Regions from separate parts of the Homo sapiens genome. Here all the other regions are linked to region 1. Evidence: fine-mapped expression QTL. A gene starts in region 1. Each other region holds a variant in brackets. All regions are shown on one strand. Distances are from middle to middle.

Region 1 (2,676 bases):
TGCCAAGCTCGAATCCCTATCTTCAACGCTCATTATCTCATAATCACATACCTTCAGCCTACAAACCTGTATTGACTTCTCATCAAGCCCTATGTCAGGCTCTGGCAATACAAAGAGGAATTAGAATGACCCTGTTCTTCGAGGAGTTTATATCTAGATGGGGCATAGACACAAAAACCTAACACATAACAGAGGGTTGTAAGTGCTATGATTTTGTTAATCTGTGGAGTGCAGGGTTACAAAAGAGTGGCATCACACCCAGTTGTAAGTTCAGGGAAGACTTACTGGAGGAGGTGGTACTTGTCCTGAACTAGATGAAGAGGTTGGGAAAGCAGATGCAAAGATAAGGAGGGAAGAGAGAACTTTCGGATAGTTGTTTGTCAGGAGCTTAGCATGTGAGGGATAGAAGGGGTTAGGGATGAAGCATAGAGTTTTTCAGACACCAGTCATGAGAGTCGAATGCTGGACAAAGTAGATGGGTCTTGAATCTGTGGAAAATGGAGAATTATTGCGGAGTTATTGGCAGGGGTGTAATATTGTCAGATTTACATATTAGAAAGAACACTCTATAAATAAAGGCAGAGTGATCAGCTAGATTATTTGTAGAAGTTCATGTAAACCTCAGTGAGATCTGAGCCAGACTGAGTTGAGAAGGAAGGGCTGGATTCTGTCATGAGAATAAGAGAAATGGAAGAATCTGAAGTGATTCTAGATTTTTGGCATGGCTGACTGGGTGGATGAAAATTCCATTTGTAGACCTGTAGGGGCAGCAGTCTGGGGGACAAAAGGATGAGTTTTGGACTTGTTGAGTTTGAACGATCTGGAAGACATTCACATGGATATGTCAAAAAAGGCATTTCAAGTGTCCAGTTTAGGAGACAGATGGGCTGGAGATTTGATGTTCATCAGTACTACCTGTTAGTGATCTTATAAGGATTAAATAATATGCATATGGAAAATATATATATACTTGCCATTTAGTTGTTTGTTGAGCATACTGAATATTTGCATACAAAGGTATACTTACAACACTTTTTTCACAAGCACAGCTGAAATAAACTATAACAACTACCACTTATACTATTTACCATAAATTGTGCTAAATGTTTTTACTTATTATCTAGTGTTTATGGTAACCCTTTGATATAGGAGTAGTTATTCCCATTTTTTTTCTTATGAGTAAACTGACTAGGAGATATAGTGTAGGTTGGCCAGGGCTACACAGTAGCAGAACTGGGGAATTCCAAGGCCAGTGTTCTTTCTTATGACGCATTTTCTGTCTTGGGTTACAACAGCACTAACGACAGGTAGCATTGCACACAGGCAGCTGCTGGGAAGTCTCCGCCCCCATCTCTGGCTAGGAGCCCTGCAGGTGATGATAAACAAGCTCCTGTGGAATTGTGGGTAGACACTGGACTTGTAAACGAAAAGCTTCATAAGTCCCTCTTTGCTTAGTACTTTTCTCGTCCTTTCCCCAGGGTGCACGTAACCCTCAAGCACTAGGACCGTGCGGAATCCAGGCTGCGATGGCACCTTCATTTACCGCCCGCATTCAGTTGTTCCTCTTGCGGGCGCTAGGCTTTCTCATAGGCTTAGTAGGCCGAGCAGCTTTAGTCTTAGGGGGTCCAAAGTTTGCCTCAAAGACCCCTCGGCCGGTGACTGAACCATTGCTTCTGCTTTCGGGGATGCAGCTGGCCAAGCTGATCCGACAGAGAAAGGTGAGAATGCAATTCAGAAGAGGCTGGAGGGACAGGTCTTTTAGCAGGATCCAGGAAGCTTAGTGGTGGCGGTGGTTGTGGTTTCCTTTCCATTCTCTACTAGGGCGACTTAGGAGAGGCATTTATTGGGGATGAAGGGAGACTTCTGGGTGTTGTAGTACGTTTATTTTTACCAAGGACATTTACTGTGGGCATGGGTTGGACTATTTTGGTACCGTCATAGTCCTTCCTATCCATTTGTCCTATTTGTGCATAATTACTGTGTGTGGGGTAAAGCAGGTGTGAATTTCAAACTGATTCTCAGCTATGGAAAGTCAGTCTCTCTCTTTCTCTCTCCCTCTCCCTTTCTCTCTCTCTATTCTTCCGTCTCTCACAGGCCCCAGATCAACCTGCTGCTTACCATTCAACCAATTCTTTTTAAAATTGATTTAAAGTAAAAGTAGTACTTGGTCTAGGATAGTAAAAGCTGCGTCTACCATATATTTATTGCATAGTATATGTGAAATACTCTGCCTGGGTACTTAAACATATTCTATTTCACGGATGCAGTTATATAGGCAATATTCATATTTTATGCATAAGGAAACTGAAGTAAAATGATTTGCACAAAAATTGTTGAAAGTTCTAAATTAAAAAAATTAAGCAGCTCATTCGTTCTCTATAGAATTGTGCAGGCAGGACTATTCATCTCTGTCATATAAGTGATTGGTTACCTGGAGATCTTGAGCTACAGTCTAGTATTGTTTATTTATACTCTGCTTGTTTTCACCTCTCTGCTGTTTCATTTGTTTTTCGTCATTGCTTTATTTCCAGAATCTACAATACTACTTAACAAAGAATAGGCATGCAGCAAATACTATCTCAGTATGTGCTCCTGAATGTATGAATTATTAATATTTGTATTGTACTCCTGGTTACCTTTCAAAGACATATCCTGTCTTCTTGCCGTACCCCCTCC
Region 2 (2,676 bases), 110 kb after region 1:
GTTTATCAAATATAGGAATTTTATGTAAAGTCTAGGTTTTCTAGGTATGTCATCAGCAAGCAGAGATAACATGACTACTTCTTTTTAAATTTGGATCCCTTTCCTCTGGCTAGAACTGCCAGTACTATGTTGAATAGGAGTGGTGAGAGTGGAGATCCTTGTCTTTTTTCAGTTCTTGTTTTTTTTGTTTGTTTGTTTTTTGTTTTTGGCAAAACTATTTCCTTTTATTCTGTGGAACGTCACTAACGTAAATAGACATGTGCATGATTTATGTTAATTTATACACGATGAGAATTAAGGCTGAAAATGACATCCGGGAAAACTCCTACTATTAGTTTCAGATCTTCTGGGCAGGGGCTGACTCTTGGCTGCCTTATACTTCCTAACTCCCAGTGGGCCTGAATAGACACTGGCCAGATTTTCAAAGTAGCTTCTTGAAGATGGATGATGATCTGTTTAGAATGATCCATTCACCTGTTCTGTTTCAGGGTCCAAATCAGTATCATAAAAACAGGGCTGGGTGGGGAGTCCATTGTGCTCATCGTTCCTACTAAAGGGTACAGAAAACCAGCCCCGATGCTGGCATGGATGTTGCGAATGGGCAGAATGAATCCTGTAGGGACACCTTTTCGCTCTGGGTTGTGAGACAAGGACAAGTGTGTTTTGGCCATGCAGATGGGGAGATTCCCAAAGCCCTGCTTTGTGTAGACTTCAGCTTTGTGTTGAGCTTTGAGGAGTAATTCAATGTTGTCTGCTCCATAGATCTTCTGTGCAATGATCCTGATTTTATCCTCAACTGGGAGCTTGAGGTCATAAAGGAGTTGGAAGCTGCTGGGTGCTTGTCCTGCTCTCTGGACAGCCTGAGCCAGGGCTAAGGTACCCTTGCCCCCTTCTGCCAGTGAGTGCACTTCACGGCATCAAAAGCCCTCTGTTCTCTGGAAAGGCAGCCGATGAGGTCCAGCTCAGTCTCTGTATCTGTCTTGAATGCATTCACGGCCACTACTACTGGAATTCCAAACATTCTGGCATTTTCAGTTTGTTTCTTCAAGTTACTGAAGCCTTTTTCAACCAGCTCCAGGTTCTCCTCTATGTAAGCCTTGGGAAGAGGCATTCCAGCAGTGACCATAGGGCCACCCCTGTGCATCTTTAGAGCGCTGACAGTGGCAACAAGCACCACCACGTGAGGGTG[G/A]AGACCGGAATACTGGGATTTGATGTTAAGAAACTTTTCTATTCCAATGTCTGCTCCAAATCCCGCCTCCGTCACTACAAACCCTTCTGGGCCAACAAGCTAGAGTGTGATCCGGTCTGCAATGATAGAGGAATTGCCGTGTGCGATGATGGCAAATGGGCCTGCATGGACAAACACTGGAGTGCCCTCCAATCTCTGCATGAGATTGGGCTTGATTGTGTCCTTCATAAGCACTATCAATGCACCACTCACCCCCAGATCTTCAGCACTGACGGGGTCTCCTTTCTTACTGGATGCCACCACCATTTTGCCCAGTCTCTCTCTCCTGTCTTCTAGAGAAGTGGTGAGAGCCAGGACAGCCATAATTTCACTGGCCACAGAGATATCAAAGTGGACCGTCTGTGTGTGACTTTTCTTCGTTGGAGCCTGTCCAATCGTGATCTTCCTCAGGAATCTATCATTGGTATTCAACACTCTTTGCCAAGCTATGGTTTCTGGATCAATGTCCAATCTTGCAAATCTGTTTATCTCTTCATCTGTCAGTGTGGTAGAGTCAGTCTTGTCAATGCCTAGTCTGTTTAACCTTTGTATGTGGATATCAGAGAACTTTCTCACTCCATTTACTGATGGCACCAAATGAGTAAAGGTAGCCTTGTCTGTCTGGGTCAGTTCATGAAATATCTGAGCATCAATAGCCGCAGCAACAAGGTTATTAGATACAGTGATGGCATGGATGTCACCTGTGAGGTGAAGATTAAACTCTTCCATAGGAATGACCTGGGAGTAGCCGCCTCCTGCAACACCACCTTTTATTCCAAAGGTGGGGCCCTGAGAAGGCTGTCGCACACACATAAAAAAGTTCTGGTAAAGATGGGCAAGAAGGGCTTGCACCAGCCCGATTGTAGTCGTGCTTTTCCCTTCTCCCAGGGGTGTTGGAGTTATTCCAGTCACCACCTGATATTTCCCAACAGGCTGGTGCTTCAGGCGTTCTAGTGCTGACAGCAGAACTTTGGCCTTTGTTTCACCATATAATTCTACCTCTTCAGACAGCAGACCAATTACTCAAGCCAGCTTACCAATGGGCTTCGGTTTACAAGATCGTGATATATCAATGTCACTTGGAACAGGTGTCTTGAGGTTAAGGTTGTTATACTGAATCATCCACTTTCCTGGCTTAAATTTCTCCAGGAAACGCTTGGCACTCTCTACAGTGCTCTGCATGAGCATTGCAACCGTCATGAGCCCTAAGCCACCAGGAACGGGCCTCGTCGTATGCCACATCACCCACAACTTTTCTCCCATTTGTTTTTTTTATCATCTGGGACATAATTGATTCCACAGTTGATGACTATTGCTAGGTTTGATCCATTCCCCTTTAACCATTTCAGGCCGACCAGTTGCAACCACCAGGATGTCGCCTTTATTTACCTCCTCATCCAGATTGGCAGTCTTGGAGTGGCAGGTGGTCACTGTGGCATTGTTCCACA
Region 3 (2,676 bases), 630 kb before region 1:
TTGGCCCCTAATCTCTTCTGGCTTGTAGGGTTTCCTCTGAGAAGTTCACTGTTAGTCTGATGGGTTTCCCTTTGTAGGTGAGCTGGCCTTTCTCTCTGGTGCCCCTAACATTTTTTCTTTTATTATGACCTTGTATAATCTGATGATTATGTGTCTTGGTGTTGATCTACTCATGGAGTATGTTACTGGGGTTTTCAGCATTTCCTAAATTTGAATGTTGGCCTGTTTTCCTATGTTGATGAAGTTCTACTGGATGATTTCCCAAAGTATGTTTTTCAACTTGGTTCCATTCTCCCCATCTCTTTCAAGTACCCCAATTAGTCATAGGTTCATTCTCTTTACATAATCTCATGTTTCTCAGAGGTTTTGTTCATACATTTTCATTCTTTTTTATTGTTGTCTGCCTGTCTCATTTCAAAAAATAATCCTCAAGCTCTAACATTCTTTCCTTTGCATACTCATTTCTACTAGTGATACTTGAGATTGCATTGTGAAGTTCTTGTGCTTTTCATCTCCATCAGGTCATTTATGTTTCTCTCAAAATTGGCTATTCCATCTATCACCTCCTGTGTTATTTTATTATAATTCTTAGCTTATTTGCATTAGGTTACAACATGCTCCTTTAACTCAGAAAACTTTGTTATTATCTACTTTCTGAAGCCTACTTCTGTCAATTCTGCCATCTCAACCTCAGCCCAGTTCTGTGCCCTTGCTGCAGAGGTGTTGTGGTCACTTGGAGAAAAGGGAGCATTCTGACTTTTTGAGTTTTCAGCATTTTTATGTTGATTGTTTCTCATCTTTCTGGGCTTATCTACCTGCAAACTTTGAAGTTGCTGACCTTTGGATGAGGTTTTTGTGGGGTCTTTTTTATTTATATTGTTGTTGTTTATTTCTGTTTGTTTGTTTTCCTTTTCACAGTCAGGCCACTCTACCAGAGAACTGCTGTGGTTTTCTGGAGGTCCACTTCAGATTCTAGTTGCCTCAGTCCTTCCCATTCCAGGAGGGATCACCAGTGAAGTCTGCAAAACTGCAAAGATGACAGCCAGCTTCTTTATCTGGAATCTCCATCCCAGTGTGGTACTGACATTTTTTCTGGCCTGAATGCACCAGTATGAAGTGGCTGGAGACCCCTGTTCAGAAATCTTACCTAGTCAAGAGGAAATGGATCAGAGACTTGCCTAAATAAGTAGTCTGGCTGCTATGGTAGTCCAGTTGTGCTGTGTTGCGGGGTACCCTTTCTTGTCTTGACCATTTATGTTCTCCAAAGCTGGCCGACTGGAACAACTAAGTCAACTGAATTGCAAAAATGGCAGCTGCTCCTCTCCCTGTGAGCTCTTACCCAGGGAGAGATCAGAGCTCTGTACATAGAACCATGGCCAGAGTGGCTGAAGCCCCCACA[T/G]AGAGGTCCTGCTCAGTGAGCAGCAATGAACCAAGGTCCTGCTTAAGGAAGCAGTCTGGCCATAATCTGACAAGGAAGCTGTGCTACATTTTGAGTGACCCTTCCTCTTTTGGACCATTTGTATTCTCTAAAGCTGCAGGCTGGAAAATCTGAGTCTACCAAACCACAGTAATGGTTGCAGCCCCTCTCCCTGGGAACTTAAACCTGTCTCAGGCAGATTCTAGCCTGTTGCCTTTGGCTGGCTGGAATTCTAAATCAGAGGGTCTTAACTTGTGAGGTGCTGTAAAGTGGGGCCTGAAGAATGATGATTCTTGGCTCCCCAGAATCAGCCCACTTTCTATGGATATGGATGGATGGATTTTTCACTTTGCTAGTGATTCTGGGGCAAGAATATGTAAAATTCCTGGGTCCTTGTGTTTGCCTGAGTGGCTGCACTACTGAGACTTTACACAGCTCTGTGTATTGCACCCAAGGCCCTGGTAATGTGGGCTTGTGATGGTATCTCCTGATCTGTGGGTTGCTAAGATCCATGAGAGAAGCATAATTACCTGGGCTGGGTCACACAATCACTCACTGCTTCCCTTGGTTGGGCATGGGGGTTCCTTTGGCTCCATGGACCATTGCTCCCTCTGCTTTTCTTCATTATCTGTGGGTTGAGTTGTTTGCCTAGTCAGGCCCAATGCAAGAACCAGAATATATCAGTTGAAGGTGTTGAATTAACTTGCCTCTTTTTATTTCTCTCTGTGAGTACCCTAGACCATAGCTAATTGGCCATCTTGGATTCTCACTGTATTTTTAAATGGGGCATTTACATCAAGGCTTACTGTTTACATCAAGGTTAGTATTGATAAGTGTGGGTTTTATCCTGTCATTGTGTCATTAGCTGGTTTTCATGCTGACTTTTTGTGTATTTGCTTTACAGTGTCATTGGTCTATATATTTAAGTGTGCTTTTGTTTTAGCTGGTAGTGGTCTTTCCTTTCTGTATTCAGTGCTCTTTTCAAGATCAGTTTGTTCTGGTAGTAACAAGCATTCTCAACATTTGCTTATCTAAAAAGGATCTTTTGTTATTTTACTTTAAGTTCCAGGATACACGTATAGAAATTGCAGGTTTGTTACATAGGTGTACATGTGTCATGGTGGTTTGCTGCACCTATTAACCCACCATCTAGATTTTAAGCCCCACATGCATTAGGTATTTGTCCTAATGCTCTCCCACCTCTTGACCACCACCCCATGACAGGCCCCAGTGTGTGACGTTCCCCTCTCTGTGTTCAT

Alleles and levels. Positions count from the first base shown, and alleles are read on the strand shown. Sizes are in standard deviations (SD) of each study's normalised expression.
For the expression in sun-exposed skin of the gene that starts at base 1,407 in region 1, allele G in region 2 goes with a higher level than allele A (small effect, 0.32 SD a copy in GTEx).
As copies of T replace G in region 3, the expression in minor salivary gland of the gene that starts at base 1,407 in region 1 goes up (small effect, 0.34 SD a copy in GTEx).

Evidence for each region.
Region 2: its variant is fine-mapped to the expression of FAAH2 in sun-exposed skin (GTEx, PIP above 0.99). The same link has a PIP of 0.9 or more in cerebellar hemisphere, nasal epithelium, pituitary and unexposed skin.
Region 3: its variant is fine-mapped to the expression of FAAH2 in minor salivary gland (GTEx, PIP above 0.99).

Annotation. Positions count from the first base shown.
Region 1 is chrX:57,285,300-57,287,975 of GRCh38, forward strand. FAAH2 (fatty acid amide hydrolase 2) reads left to right here and starts at 1,407. Exons shown (of 11, transcript NM_174912.4): 1 at 1,407-1,718. The coding sequence starts at 1,527.
Region 2 is chrX:57,392,187-57,394,862 of GRCh38, forward strand. All of the region lies in intron 7 of FAAH2 (fatty acid amide hydrolase 2), which reads left to right. It also overlaps the pseudogene MTHFD1P1. Among named protein-coding and RNA genes, the nearest start is that of FAAH2, 110 kb to the left of the region's middle. The variant G/A (reference allele first, on the strand shown) is at 1,190.
Region 3 is chrX:56,653,366-56,656,041 of GRCh38, forward strand. No RefSeq gene overlaps it. Among named protein-coding and RNA genes, the nearest start is that of NBDY, 75 kb to the right of the region's middle. The variant T/G (reference allele first, on the strand shown) is at 1,400.